Homo sapiens: one gene and its partners. The protein of the gene in region 2 purifies or fractionates together with the protein of the main gene of each other region. This does not show direct contact. Each region holds a gene or a part of one and is shown on either strand. Other genes may lie near its edges.

What was found. The genes of interacting proteins can lie anywhere in the genome.
Region 1: the proteins of PFKP (region 2) and ARHGAP1 fractionate together in Homo sapiens (co-fractionation; one large-scale study listed by BioGRID). This does not show direct contact.
Region 3: the proteins of PFKP (region 2) and MCMBP fractionate together in Homo sapiens (co-fractionation; one large-scale study listed by BioGRID). This does not show direct contact.
Region 4: the proteins of PFKP (region 2) and MTHFD1 fractionate together in Homo sapiens (co-fractionation; one large-scale study listed by BioGRID). This does not show direct contact.

Annotation. Positions count from the first base shown.
Region 1 is NC_000011.10:46,676,620-46,680,119, forward strand, and holds the end of ARHGAP1 (rho GTPase-activating protein 1), read right to left. Parts: intron 3,158-3,500; coding exon 3,029-3,157; intron 2,850-3,028; coding exon 2,746-2,849; intron 2,607-2,745; coding exon 2,418-2,606; 3' UTR 461-2,417; downstream 1-460. UniProt on the Homo sapiens protein: GTPase activator for the Rho, Rac and Cdc42 proteins, converting them to the putatively inactive GDP-bound state. Cdc42 seems to be the preferred substrate.
Region 2 is NC_000010.11:3,105,548-3,110,990, reverse strand, and holds part of PFKP (ATP-dependent 6-phosphofructokinase, platelet type), read right to left. Parts: intron 3,778-5,443; coding exon 3,682-3,777; intron 2,291-3,681; coding exon 2,198-2,290; intron 1,637-2,197; coding exon 1,511-1,636; intron 1-1,510. UniProt on the Homo sapiens protein: Catalyzes the phosphorylation of D-fructose 6-phosphate to fructose 1,6-bisphosphate by ATP, the first committing step of glycolysis.
Region 3 is NC_000010.11:119,831,892-119,834,843, forward strand, and holds part of MCMBP (mini-chromosome maintenance complex-binding protein), read right to left. Parts: intron 210-2,952; coding exon 121-209; intron 1-120. UniProt on the Homo sapiens protein: Associated component of the MCM complex that acts as a regulator of DNA replication.
Region 4 is NC_000014.9:64,422,853-64,426,352, reverse strand, and holds part of MTHFD1 (C-1-tetrahydrofolate synthase, cytoplasmic), read right to left. Parts: intron 1,550-3,500; coding exon 1,422-1,549; intron 624-1,421; coding exon 526-623; intron 335-525; coding exon 161-334; intron 1-160. UniProt on the Homo sapiens protein: Trifunctional enzyme that catalyzes the interconversion of three forms of one-carbon-substituted tetrahydrofolate: (6R)-5,10-methylene-5,6,7,8-tetrahydrofolate, 5,10-methenyltetrahydrofolate and (6S)-10-formyltetrahydrofolate.

The DNA of each region.
Region 1 (3,500 bases), on a different chromosome or scaffold from region 2:
GAGCCAGTGATGATGACTGTTAGCGGTGAGAGCTGGCACGTGAGGGAACGAGGACTCAAACTCTCGTGTGACTCCAGATCCCACACCATTGTCCATCACAGTCCACACCACTTTTCTTCCCCCTGCTTGCCTTAGATAAATCTAAGATCCCTTCAAACTTCCGGTACCTTCCAGTTGGGAAACAGGAGAGGCCCTGGTCATAGGATGCAGCACATGGTGGCCTGCTGGAATGCTGGGGGTACAAACAACGGGAAGGTGGCCGTGGACACCTCCATGCCTAGAAGCTGGTCAGGAAGCTGCCCTCATCACCACTCGAGTGCACAAGATGAGGAAGCGGCAGACGGACTGGGGAGGGGACTTCCTGAGGCCCCATCTGTTCCTCTTCCTCCACCGCACCACACTTCCCATCCAGTTTCCAACTTCCACACCCAACTCATTTCCCCAACATCCAGATGAGCAGTTTTGCATCAACATTTTTATTGAAATACAAAAAGTGCAAACGGTGAAATACATGATTGGTGCCAAGGAAGTCATTAAGTGTGAATGTGAACACTGGATTCACACAGTACAAGCACCCGCTCCCTGGGGTACAGACCAGTGGGGGACATGAGAAAGACCAAATAGATCCGAAAGGCTCCCCAGTGAATGGGGCTGTGAGCGACACTTGATACACAAAGGAGGGCGGAGAGCAGAGCAGCCCTGGCCGAGGCTAGAGACCAAGGGACTGATGAAGAACCAGCAGCAGCCCAGGCCCCAGGGGGCTGGATGCACTGCTGATGGTCTTGGGAGAGCCCAGCGAAGTTATGCCCAGGCCCAGCCTGGCTTGCGGATGGGGCTGGGCTGGTCAGTGAGGATCCCCACAGTACGGGCTCTGGAATCATCCTGCCTGGCCAAGGTCATGGGGGCAGGGTCACTGCAGGTACTTCCCTGTACTCCCCAAGGACAAGGCTGCAGGAAGAGGGATCCCCAGGAAGGAGTGTAATTCTACGAGACAGTGGGAGTGAGATCAGCCATCACTGGGGCCGAGGTTCTTTGAAAGACAACAGGGCTGGCCGGGTGCAGTGGCTCACGCCTGGAATCCCAGCACTTTGGGAGGCCGAGGTGGGTGGATCATGAGGTCAGGAGATCGAGACCATCCTGGCCAACATGGTGAAACCCCGTCTCTACTAAAAATACAAAAATTAGCTGGGCATGGTGGCATGCACCTATAGTCCCAGCTACTCAGGAGGCTGAGGCAGGAGAATTGCTTGAACCCAGAAGGCGGAGGTGTGCCGAGATCGCGCCACTGCACTCCAGCCTGGTGACAGAGCGAGACTCCATCTCAGAAAAAAAAAAAAAAAGGTGGCCCTAGAGCCCCTTAATCCCCTGGGGAAATTGCTAGAACCCACCTATCTGGACTGACCTATCAGCACAATCTCTGCCCCTCCTACGGGCACTCTTAGTCTCTACCCCAGCCCCTTTAAGAGTCCCCCAGCTGGAGGAAGGAGCCATAAGATCCTGAGGCACTGAGTCACCTCTGGCTGGGGCAGGGGCCAGTGTGACTCCGTAACAGACAGGTCCACAAGAACATGAAGGCTGATGATCTGCCCGTGTGGGAAAGGAGGCCAAGAGGGGAGAGGCTAACCTGGCCGGTCACTGATTCCATCACACGCTGTAGCTCTCGGGGGCGGGGAGGTGGAGAGGGAGGTTTCAAGTGGATGCTGGGACTCTGAGCCATGTCATCCAAGCTACCAGTCCCTGCACAACCAAGGGGTTAGGACACCCCAGGGGCAGTATCACTTGGGAAAGGCTGACCCAGGATGTGTGGAAGAGGAGGCAGAAAGCAGACACAGTCTCCAGCCCTGTCACTCCTCAGCAGGGGAAATACCCCAGACTGCGCTGCTGGGGGCAGTACAGGAGCAAGGGTGCTTGCACTCAGGCCTTCATGCAGTGGGGCTTCTGCAAAGCAGGGCAGCCTACCAGATAGGGAGGCACCTCAGCTTGGGGCGGTGTCCACACCAAAGAGCTCAGCTGCTCATTCCCAGCAATCAAGAGGGGAGGACTGGCCCCTGCTACCAGCCCAGCCGGCAGTCATTTGATTCATCCACACTTGCTAGGGAAACAGAGGCAGGAAAAAGCAGGAAAGGGGTTACTGGGGCTCAGTCCTTCTCCAGCTGGAAGAGCCAAGCCCAGCTCTGGAGAGCCCAGCAAAAGCCCGGTGTCCAGAGAGGCAGTGAGAAGTGTAAGGCAGAGAAAAACGTCTTCTGGTAACAGCGAGGCCGCCAGGGCCGTGAGGCGGGCTGGACAGAGGTGGGGGAGAGCATGCCTGATGGGTGGCTCCAACATCTCTCTCCAGGGGGCTTCATGGCCCCTGATGCCAGGAGGAAGAGTCCAAACCCGGGCTACCAGAGAAGGGGCTGGTGGGGCAGGGGCCAGGTTCAGAGCCCGCTGGGGTCCGGGCTTGGGAACAGCTCCCCTTGGTGATCCAGAAGGAACTTGGTGAAGGTGTTGATGGGATTAATGGCCTTGAGGGTGATGGCCGCATCCTTGGCCCACAGCAGGTTAGGGCCGAAAACAACAGCCAGGTTAGTGTTGGTCATCTTGTTCTGGTCACTGTGTGCAGAAATCTGTGGAGGGAATCAGGGACTGCAGCAGGAAGCCACAGATGCTGCCTCCCACTCCCAGCAACAATGACCAGGGCGCAGAGGAGGCGGCAGCTCCTCCTTCCCCCTCCCTTCACCCCAGAGGCCAAGTCCAAGGTCTCACCTGCACCAGGAAAGCAGTCAGGAAACGAAGCACCTGGTAGTTCTCCTCGGGCAGCGTCTGGAGGACCTGCAGTGTCGCTGGCACCCTCTGGCTTTCATCAATGTCTATGAGGAAAGGAGGCCCGGGTTATAGGGGCCCTAGGCTGGGCTGGTTCAGGACGCTCTGATGCAGGCTAGAGGGGAGACCCCCAGCAGTCTTCCCTGGGAGGCGCCTAGGCCCGAAAGCCTGCAGCGCACCTGCCCCAAGTCCAGCCCCAGGCCCAACAGAAGAGATGGGGACTCACTGAGGAAGCCCACCACATGGGGGTAGAGGTCAAAGGTGAGCAGGGGCTCAGGAAGCTCCCGGAGGAAGGTCTTGAGGATGACTGCTGGCAGGTGCAGCTCATTGTACTGGTCGAAATCCACAGGCAGCCCTGGGGTGGGGGCAGCGTGAGAGAAGCTCGGCACAGCCTGAAGGGCAGCACCCATCTGCAGACAACGCGGGCCGCACTGCCTGACTGCCCCTGGACACTGCATAAGCCCCTCCTCCCAGGGGCGCCCTCTGACACCTGCCTCCCTCTTCCTCTGTGATCAGAGAATGCAGGTTCCGGCCATCTGGGGAAGTGGGGCCCGGCACACCCCACCGTTATTCCTTGCCTCTGAATGTGCCTATACCCAGGACCCGGGAGCCCGACCGATGAGGCAGCAGGCCTGGCAGAAGTAGGACTTATGTGACACCCAGAGCCACGGAAACCTCCAGCAGGAAGAGACTCTGAG
Region 2 (5,443 bases):
TACACATGCATATACACACATGCACACACACTAACATGCACACACACTACCTCACAAAAACATGCACACACGTACAAACATGCATGCACACAAACATGCACACACATACATGCAGACATACTACCACAAACATGCATACTCATGCATATAAACATACACATACATGCAGACCCAAACTACCTCACAAACATGCACACACATGCATAAATATATGCATAAACCTGCATGTATATGCATATACAGAGATACACATGCACACACATATACATACATACACACAGAGACACAAGCCTGCGCACACACTCACACACATACACACAAATACTATTTTCTCCCTTGGGCTTTTGGAAATTATGTTTACAAGGTGACTTTCAACAAGTCCCTGACTTGATTGCTTCACGACTTCTTTGTGTGTGTTAAGAGGCAACAAAACAGGAGTCACGAATCATGAATGAACTCTGAAAAATAAAACAACAGCTGGGCGTGGTGGCTCATGCCTGTAATCCCAGCACTTTGGGAGGCCGAGGTGGATGGATCACAAGGTCAGGAGATCCAGACCATCCTGGCTAACACGGTGAAACCCCACCTCTACTAAAAATACAAAAAAAAAAAAAAAAAAAAAAAATTAGCCAGGCGTGGTGGTGGGCACCTGTAGTCCCAGCTACTCGGAAGGCTGAGGCAGGAGAATGGCGTGAACCCAGGAGGCGGAGCTTGCAGTGAGCCAAGATCACGCCACTGCACTCTAGCCTGGGCAACAGTGAGACTCCGTCTCTAAATAAATAAATTAATTAATTAAATAACTTCAAATGCAGCTAACTCCACAGCCACCTCCACTACTGAACCAATGCCTGAAAAGCTGGAACTGCTTTTCCCTTTGTTCATTTGCAGGCAGACAGTTCCCTGGCCCAAGAAGGGTGGGTGTATCTTCGGGTGACCAGAGCTTTCCCTGTGTCCCATCACAGACCTGAATGTCCTTGGGGATAGGAGGACAGGAAATGGCTGAAACTGGAGAAGTTTGGGAAGGTCCCACCTTCCCCTACAAAATACCACCCTGTAGATCTCTCTCACGCCCGCCTCCCTGCCTCCCTGCCCCCTCTGCCCCATGGGTCTCTCTCACGCCCGCCTCCCTGCAGTCTGTCCACGGATCTCTCTCTCTCGGCTGCCTCCCTGCACTCTGTCCTTCTGCAGCACCTGGTGCACTGGGGCCACCTGGATCCTCGACTGTTGAGGATCCCGATGCTCTAGACCCCCACTCAGGGGAGGTTACGACTATGTGCCACACAGATGGATGGTAACTTAGAAAACCAAAGAGCGAAGACGGCGCAGGCTCTGCAGGTGTGGGAGAGAACATAAGCCTTCTCCCTCCCCACGGGCAGCTCACCTCCTTCTCAGAAAGGCCGTGTAATGCATCGTGCACCGACGAGACACCCAAGGTGCCCAGGCTGGCCTGACAAGCAGCTTCTGTCCCAGCCGTCTCCGCCCTGCCCTTGGCCATGGGCTGCCCACTCACCATCTGCACGCACTCCATCAGCGGCAGGCGCACGGCGTGGTTCCCGTTCAGTGACACGACGCAAGCTGGGGTGTCCGGGGTGGCCTCTAGCAAGGCGATGACTGCCTCCACTCCCATGCGGCTGGCCTGGAAACCAGGTCCATGTGGGTCAGGGGCAGCCTCCCGTCCTGCCCTGTCCCTGTCACCTCCTATCTTTCCATGACGTCCAATGACCTCAGTCAGGTGCTCACAGCCCCTCCCGCTTCCAGCCCAACTCTTTAGAGCAAAGCGATTTCCACTCCTTTAGAACTGGCAAGACGGGAACAGAGAGGAGGTCAGGGCACATGGAGAGCAGGAGTGTTAAGAACTGAGGGTTTGTACTTGGGATTCCTGCTGCCCTGAGTCAGTTTCCAGAAACTCACTAGAAACACAGCCTTTCTGCCCTGGGATTGTGCCCTCTGGGGTCCACGTCGTGCCAACACCAAGCACTGCCTTCCCACATTAGGGAGCTCTCCCCGCATCTGAATGGCTGCAGGCCTAGAGACTGGTCTACACCAAAGGTCTCAAGGATCGTTAAGATGAGGGCCGGGCCGCGGGCATCTCTCGGGGAGCACCTTGCCAGCCTCTGTGGCCGGCTGGTGCCTGTGCCTCTCCAGAAACGCTTCCTCCTAGAGACCTTGTGAAGATGCCCAACCCTTCCCAACTCACCAAGATCCTGTCGAATGCCGAAGGGGTCCCTCCTCTCTGCACGTGCCCGAGGATGGTCACACGTGTGTCATAGCCCAGCTGCGTGACGACAAGCTGCAAGGAAACATCTCGTTAGGATGCGGAACTGTGATGCGGACACAGCAGCCCAGATCTGGAAGGAGGTACTGGGCACTGGAAAAGGTTTTTCGCTCTTTCTTCAGATCTAAATGGGAAAAGTTATTTCTAAATTTTGTTTCCTAGCAGAACGTTTAGTGTATATAACAGGCAGCTGAAAATTGGTTTTAAAAATAATACTGTTGTTACCAGACAAGATCTTGGCTCGCACCTAGAAAATGAATACAAGTAATATGTTCGTTGCTTTAAAAAAGAAAAATAAAAAAGTAACGTTTCAGTAGCTTGCATTTAAACTATTACTTATATTTTACAAAAAATGTAAACATCTTCCTTGAACCAGCTTTAATTTGTTCAGCTGTGATTTGAACAGCACAAGCCAGCCCAATCAAGGCGTTCCCCTCGCCCCAGCCCATGGGCACACCGGCCCGGTGATCTGGAGAGGCCACTGACTGTCTCTGGAACTCAGCTTATTCCTCTGTAAGGACAGTGGGGCTGGGCTACGTAAATTCCTTGGTTCCTTCTCGGTCCATTGTCCTATAATTTAATTACAGTTAAGCGGGAAATAAAATCTTTGCCTGGACTTTATGGATGACCACTTATAAATATTGGCAGATGTCTTTCCCAGGTGTCCATCACTGTTTTCATATCCAGAGATATGCTTTGCTCCTTAACTGACCATAACAAAGCACAATAAAGAAGCCGACTTGCAAAGCCAGGTGGGGACGTCTTCTGCCCCGTGGCTGCTGGAGCCACAGCCCATCCCCAGCCCCGGCAGCCTGCAGCCCCGTCTACAGCAGGGGCACAGCCCATGGTATCAGAGTCCTCTCCAGACAGGCAGGCACTGGCCTGAGCAAGTCCCAGGGCACGAAGCCTGCCAAAGCCTGCCAAAGCCTGTTCCCAGGCAGGGCCACGAGGACACAGTGGCTTTGTAAGAATGTGCTCAGCTGATGCTCTGGGTTATGGGAGGGCACAGGGAATAGCAAGACGCCGCCTTTTCCCACTGTGGCAAACAGAAGCCCGGGTCGGCTGCCAAGTGGTCAGTCCTCATTCTCAGAGCAGCTCATGTTTAAGAGCCGGAACATTCTAATCCAAAGAACACGCGTGGCCACTCGAGCTGACCCCCTCTGTCTGCTGGGGAGTCCCGGAACCTCTACGGGCTCGGCAAGAGGTGACGTAAGCGGAATGGGCTCCCAGGAGCGGGAGCTGCGTGTTTCCCCTGCCGTCCAACTTCTGAGTCATTATGAAAATGTTTTAAATATCAAGGATAAAAAGTTAATAATTCAATGTTCTAAACCAAGCCTGCCCATGACGCTAGCCTCCCCTGCTTCCAGGCAGAAACCGAGAGAAAGTGAGCAGCTACACACACTCACCTCTTTGATTTTCTCAGAGGTGATGGGTTTATTTTGGGTATCAATTGCTCCTTCAGCCACAATAATAATATTCAGCCTTTTTTTCCGGGCACGGTTCTGTGGAGACAGAAAATTAAAGCTCTCAAATTCCTAATCCTGTTCTTAGCAACAAATGCAACAAAACCACAGAAGTCTGTCTCAAACTGAACTGGCCTCTTTCTGGGCAGGAATCTTTGCCTAACTTCCTAAGAGCTGCTTCCCAATGACATCAGAAGGTGGTGAAAGGTGTGCTGGGTGACAGCAGGGAGGGACAGGGGTGAGAGGAGGGGCAGGGGCGAGGAGAGGGGCAGGGGTGAAGGGGCAGGGGCAGGGTGAGGAGAGGGGCAGGGGTGAAGGGGCAGTGCAGGGGAGAGGAGAGGGGCAGGGGCGAAGGGGCAGGGGCGAGGAGGGGGCAGGGGTGAAGGGGCAGGGCAGGGGCGAGGAGAGGGGCAGGGGTGAAGGGGCAGGGGCGAGGAGAGGGGCAGGGGTGAAGGGGCAGGGGCGAGGAGAGGGGCAGGGGTGAAGGGGCAGGGGCGAGGAGAGGGGCAGGGGTGAAGGGGCAGGGGCAGGGGTGAGGAGAGGGGCAGGGGTGAGGACAGGGGTAGGGGTGAGGACAGGGGCAGGGGTGAGGAGAGGGGCAGGGGTGAGGAGAGGGGCAGGGGTGAAGGGGCAGTGGCAGGGGTGAGGAGAGGGGCAGGGGTGAAGGAGCAGGGCGGCTGTGGCTCACTGGAAGAGAGCTCTTTGGGACTGGGAGCTCACATCACCACCGCAGATAGAAATGTGGCCCCCAGTCAGCCCCAGGTGGAGGGTGCTGGTGTGATTGACAGGGGTTCCCATGGGGAAGGACACACAGGTGGACGCCCCACAGGCGCCCCGTGCACGCCATGCTTTCTGCCTCCCATGGGGAAGGACACACAGGTGGACGCCCCACAGGCGCCCCGTGCACGCCATGCTTTCTGCCTCCCATGGGGAAGGACACACAGGTGGACGCCCCACAGGCGCCCCGTGCACGCCATGCTTTCTGCCTCCCATGGGGAAGGACACACAGGTGGACGCCCCACAGGCGCCCCGTGCACGCCATGCTTTCTGCCTCCCTCCAGAGTTTCCTGCCATCTCCCTGTGAACCACTCCTCCCCGGCCCTCCCAGGGGAGGCCCCGAAGCCTGGCCACTGGGATGAGGTTGTATTGCACACAGGCTCCAGCAGCAGAGAGTCGGGAGAGAGAAAACGGCGTGAGCGGACACAGGGCCCAGACAGTGGGTTTCTGGCAGCTGCAGCTGCACCCGAAAGGCCTCACACTGCTGGGCCACCGTGGCTGCTGTCCCCGTCGTCCTTCCTATGCTCACGGCAGTCACGTGAGCCTAAAGAGGTCATGAAAGGAACATAGCGACCACTCCATGATGTGGATTAACTCATCCTCAATGGACTCGCTTTCTATTAAGCCCCAAATTAAAGACCCACCCATAGAAAATGATAGGGGTGGCTGTGTGGAGCCTGGAGCCAACAGTGCCTGAAGTCTGCCTGCCGGAGTTAGGCACGCATGGGGCATTCTAACCAGGCTCACTCTGTCTCAGCCTCAGGTCTTAAATGAAACCTCTTCTGCCTTGAGTCTCAGCCTTCATAGAGGAAAACATGCCCCACGCTCACAGTCCATAGAGTGAAATACAAAGTGTGACAAACTGGAGACAGAGAAATTTTTTCACTTGCTTAAAATGCCGTCCCACTTGGGATCCTGATTAAAGCAA
Region 3 (2,952 bases), about 120 Mb from region 2:
CGTTTTTAAAAGGAAAAGTTCATTTCCGTTTTTAGAATTCTGCCTCAGTTACTGCTGAATAACTCAGAAGACATATACACAAGCTTACCGAAACAGCAATAATGGACGTGCGCCACTTACCGAGCCACCACGAGCAGCTGGTGAAGATCATCAGCAGTGATGCTCTGAGGGTCGTTCTTCCGCATTTCCACAAAGTCATCTTCAACTGCCTTTATCAAAAGAGTAAATGTAAATGATGTGCATTTTTGTAAGGAAAAGAAAATTAACATGGTTCCTTGACTGATGTAGTAAGGTGCATGTCAGCCTCTTAGACAAAGGAGGCAATATGGGTGAAAGTACCAAAGCATATACATACATAATGCTGCTGATGAAAATAAAATAATGAAACTCAGATTCATTTAAGGTCAAGCAAACATATAAATCAGCAACTGGCATAGGAAACAATGCTTTTCCACAAAGGAAGAGTGATGTTAGTGAAAATGGCAGAGAAGGGACCGCAGAAAACTGTCTCTACTGTTAACACTGATCAAAATCAGCTTTTTAAAAACTAGAAATAAAACCATACTTGCAGCAATCCAGAGAGCATTTATGCAAGAAAACCAGGTGATTATTGGTAAGAATGTTGAGCCTGGCAGCATTTTAACATGTCCTACTCCTAAATTCCAACCCCTTCCCCTCCAGGCGATAATTAGTAGCTTCAAAAATCAACAGCCTGGCAGCCACCGGAGAGAGAACAGGGCTAGGGCTCCTTCCAAGTGCCATTCCCGGAGAACTGTCATCTGACCACCTGTCTGGTGGCTCCCTGGAAGGACCCATTTGCAAGGTTGTCTTTATTTAACCTGACTGGAAGCCTGTCTACTATGAACCACCTCTTTCCCCAGGGCATTTATCAAAAACAATCGGAAGAAATTACCAATCACCTTAGCTACCTGAGACACTGGGTAACAGCTGCGGCAGACAGACTAACCCAAACCCTTCAATGGAAAAGCTAGCTGGGAAATGACATGTCTGTAGAGGGCTCTGAAAACCTTAAGTATGTAACTCCTAGGAACTCAGAAGGCTGCAGACATGCTCAGAGACCATAGCTCCCACCTCTGCATGACCTGGAGGCTCTGTGCGAGCAGGAAATGAAGGCTAAGGCTTGTAAATTGCATGGCTAAGTGTTGAACTGAGGGCTTGCCCCAACTTTTATTTTTATTTATGATTATTATTCACCCGTAGACTGGGAGACTACTACCCAGCATTTAAGGAAATTTCTTTCCAATCATTAACCACAAAACTAACAGAGCAGAGACTTCAGTGCCCACATGTGACAAAGATACAGACTTTATAGAATTAGTCAAAAAAGTTACTAAACAACCTACCAACAGTAACAAACAGCAACAACAATAAACCCTAGGGAGGTTTAATTTCCAGAGTAACTTCCAAAGCAGAGTTGCCATATTATATAATTTAAAATGTCTGGTTGTGGCTAGATGTGGTGGCTTACACCTGTAATCCCAACACATTGGGAGGCCAAGGTGGGAGGACTACTTGAAGCCAGGAGTTGACCAGCCTAGGCAATAAAGCAAGACCTCATCACTACAAAAAAAAAAAGAAAGAAAAAAAAAGAAAAGAAAAAACAAAAAAACAAAACTTTAGTTGGGCATGGTGGTGCACACCTATGGTCCCAGCTACTGAGGCAAGAGGATCACTTGAGCCCAGCAGTTTAAGGCTGCAGTGAGCTGTGGCTGTGCTACTTACTATTCCAGCCTGGGTGATACAGTGAGACCCCACTGACCAAATAAAATGTCTGGTTTTCAACAAAAAAGTACAAAGAAACCAGAAGGTATGGCTCACACTTTGGGGATAAGGGAGTCAGTAGAAAACTGTCCCAGAGGAAACTCAAACATTAGACAAAAAGACTCTAAATTGGCTATTTTAAACATTCAAAGAAATAAAGGAAACCACATAAAAAGAACTTCAGGAAAATATGAGAATCACCAAATAGAGAGTATCAATAAAAAGAGAGAAATAATTTTTTAGAAGAAGGAAATAAAAATTCTGGAGTTGAAAAATATAGTAAAAATTCTCTAGAGGTGCTCAGATTTGATCAGGCAGAAGAAAATCACTAAATTTGAAGATAAGTTCACTGAGATTAGTCTAAGAAACAGAACAAAAAAAGAAGAATGAGGGAAAATGAACAGAGCCTTGAAGACCTGTGGGATACCATTAAATGCAACATCAGATACACAGTGGTAGTGTCAGAAGGAGAGCAGAGAGAAATGAGGCAGAAAGAAACATGGCCAAAACCTTCCCAAACTTGTTGAAAACTTCCCCAAAATATGAATTATTCTGCACCTCCAAGAAGCTCAACAAACTCCATGTAGGATAAACTCAGAGATCCACACATAGACACATCATAATCGAAACTGTCAAAAGCCACAAAATCTTGAAAGCAGTGACAGAAAAATGACTCAGTGTGTACAAAGGATCCTTATCAGAAACTAGTTGGCTTCTCAGTAGAAACCAGAGGCCAGAAAGTGGTGGGAGGACATATTCGAAATGATGAGACAAAGACTATAAACCAAGAATTCTACATCCAGCAAAACTAGCCTTAAGGAGAAATTAAGACATTCCCAGATAAACAAAAACTTAAAAGAGGGCTGGGCGAGGTAGCTCACACCTCTAATTCCAGAATTTCGGGAGGCTAAGGAGAGAGGATCACTTGAACCCAGGAGTTCGAGACTAGCCTGGGCAACATAAAGAGATCCCCTATCTGCACACACACAAACACACACACACACCCAAACAAAACAAAAAAACCCAAAAAACAAAGAATTAGCTGGGCACAGTGGCACATGCCTGTGGTCCCAACTACTCAGGAGGCTGAAGTGGGAGGATCGCTTGAACCTGGGGGGGTTGAGGCTGCAGTGAGCCATGATCACAACACTGCACTCTAGCCTGGATGAC
Region 4 (3,500 bases), on a different chromosome or scaffold from region 2:
CTCTCAGGATTGCTGTAAGGATCAAATGAGATCAAATACGGGTGAAAATGCTAAAATCAAATTAAAGGCACCTCTACATACATGTGCCAAGTGCAAATGCAACGCCTTAGTATCAGGACTGATACTAAGATTTGGATGGCAACATGAATAAAAAGCATACCCAGTCACCACCACGTATTTCCCATCAGGCCGGTGCTTCAGGCGTTCTAGTGCTGACAGCAGAACTTTGGCCTTTGTTTCACCATATAATTCTACCTCTTCAGACAGCAGACCAATTTCTCGAGCCAGCTTACCAATGGGCTTCGGTTTACAAGATCGTGATATATCAATGTCACTTTGGAAACATAGAAAATAGGTATTAATGTTTATCCACTGAGTTTAATTAATCCCACAGTAGTAACAAGCCCCCAACCCAACCCCAACCACTGAAGGCACCTTCAGAGGGAGCATATGTGAACCCACAGTATCTGTCAACTAAAAACCAACAATTCACAAAGTTTTAAATCAGTAAAACTTTATTTTTACCTTGGAACAGGTGTCTTGAGGTTAAGGTTGTTATACTGAATCATCCACTTTCCTGGCTTAAATTTCTCCAGGAAACGCTTGGCACTCTCTACTGTGCTCTAAGCAAAATGAAATAAATGAAACTTAGAAGAGGTGGTTATTTTAATCCTCACCTCAGTTTCAAGCTCCAGGTCACTCCAGTTCAATCACAAAATGAACTGCTTCAGACCCACTTATTACCATGCTTCAATCCTAGCTAAGAGTCAAGAGGCACCTAACATGCTTTGGGGCTGCTCGCCTGGCCCCTGTCAGCTGGTGCATGTTAGAAAGGGAAAACAGGCCGGGCACGGTGGCTCACACCTCTAATCCCAGCACTTTGGAAGGCCAAGGTGGGCGGATCACCTGAGGTCGGGAGTTCCAGACCAGCCTAACCAACGTGGAGAAACCTGTCTCTACTAAAAATACAAAATTCGCCGGGCGTGGTGGTGCACACCTGTAATCCCAGCTACTCAGGAGGCTGAGGCAGGAGAATCACTTGAATCAGGGAGATGGAGGTTGCGGTAAGCCAAGATCACACCATTGCACTCCAGCCTGGGCAGCAAGAGCAAAACTCCGTCTCAAAAAAAAAAAAAAAAAAAGAAAGGGAAGGCAAACCAAAACAGACCTGGCCAAGCCAGTGTGATCGCACTTTTCTTCTTTCAAAGTTATTATATTCCAAAACAGACTGGAATTATGCCATCCCTACTTTCCTCTATTAATGTGCCTGATCTTATTTCTCTATTCTTCCCTTCCCTTTTTCTCAATAAATTCACATCTTTACTTCTGAGTAGGTTTTTGACATTTCTACTTGGGGAGAAAAGCAGCCAAAACTCGATCAGCTTTTCAGAACTCTTATAGAAACTTTTATTCACAATTACCTGCATGAGCATTGCAACTGTCATGGGCCCTACGCCGCCAGGAACAGGAGTGATGAAGCTCGCCCTCTCTTTGGCCTCGTCGTATGCCACATCACCCACAACTTTTCTCCCATTTGGTTTTTTATCATCTGGTCAAGTGGGGGAGAAATCAAAACTAAGTCTCAGAATCACAGTCCTGGTGATCAGTTACGACAAAAACTCAGCAGAATTGTAGGGTGTGTTAGTCCCATCAGGCTCCAGTGCCTACTTAACTTAAAAGCTATGGAATGACAGATGTTTGCTATTTCTTAGGGAGAAAATTATTTTACCTGCAAAAATTCACAAGATGCATAAGTGGTTTTACAGAACCTGGAGAATCCTTTTGTAGTCTCTCAGGTGGCAAATAAAATACCAACTGTTTTTTATTCTTAAAACCAACTACCCAGTATATAATGAGCACCCATTTTAAAATGTTAATTTGCTAAAGCCTACAAAGGAAATTTTTTGGGTGCACAAAGATCCAACTCTGTCACAGCTGCCAGATATCGTTTCTACAGCAACTGTCAGCATTTTGTGAGCTCCATGTGTGAGCTGGAGGAACAATTCAACATCCAATTCCAAAGACACAGCTACTTAAATGTATGCTAAAGGCAAAGAATATAATTACACTTCCCTTAAAAGGACACAAGAACAACTACAAATCTTACCAGCAAAGAATAGCTATTCAAGAGAACAAAACCCAATGATGCATCATTGCTCACTCACACAAAGAACATCCTACACTTGGCTTCAGTGCACTTCCAGGAGGGGCTGGGGGCGGGCCTAGACCTCGAAGCAATAAGGCTCCCGCGCTGCATCTGGTAGTTTTAGCGACATCACCACTTCTCTCTGATCAGATCGCCACAACTGAGAAGAAGCTCCAAGGTGGAGGCAAGAAGCCAGAATTAAGAGATTAGCAGGCACTTTGGGAGGCCGAGGCGGGCGGATCACCAGATCAGGAGATCAAGACCATCCTGGCTAACACAGTGAAACCCCGTCTCTGCTAAAAATACAAAAAAATTAGCTGGGCATGGTGGCGGGCACCTGTAGTCCCAGCTACTTGGGAGGCTGAGGCAGGAGAATGGCATGAACCCGGGGGGCGGAGCTTGCAGTGAGCGGAGATTGCGTCACTGCACTCCAGCCTGGGCAACAGAGCGAGACTCTGTCTCAGAAAAAAAAGAGATTAGCTGTAGCATCAGCTCTTTTATTAAAAATTAGGGCCAGGTGTGGTGGCTCACACCTGTAATGCCAGCACTTTGGGAGGCCAAGGCGGGTGGATCACCTGAGGTCAGGAGTCCGAGACCAGCCTGGCCAGCATGGTGAAACCCCGTCTCTACTAAAAATATTAAAAAATCAGCTGGGCTTGGTAGCGGGCACCTGTAATCCCAGCTGCTCAGAGGCTGAGGCAGGAGACTCACTTGAACCCGGGAGGCGGAGGCTGCAGTGAGCATTCCACTCCAGCCTGGGCAACAAGAGCGAAACTCCGTCTCAAAAAAAAAAGTTAGTTCTGCAGCTCCTGTGGGCTCCATATTAATCTGAAGTCCAAAATGCAAAGAAGGCTTAACACTACCTATCACAAATTTGCTGAGGGCAAAATGAGAAAATGTGTACATTACTGAAATTGAAAAAGCAGCCTCCAAACGCAAGAGTTTCTCTTTCCACCACAGATACGTAAGATATTTTTTATATGGAGTAAAAGGAGCTGGTCAACACAACTCATTGGGATGGTTTCAAGTTTCTAGAAGATTATAAAGCAGCAAACTGGCAGAACATTTCCTCTTACAGCCCCTAGAGTCATTTCAAAATGCCAAGGAAATATAGATAGAGGTTTGCCCTCTGTACAAGTTTCAATCGTCTTCACACTGTAGTTAGCTTGAAATACCCGCTGCATCTATTTCTACGTGTTAATGTTAGTCATTTTCGTTTTCCCACAGGTAAGAGACACATATCTTTGACTACATGACTAAACGCAGCACTGGTGAGTTCAGTTTTGCTCCTAAACCAAATACTGTCAGGGTTGACGAGACACTGCTAAACATGCAGTGCTTCGTGGATAGGATG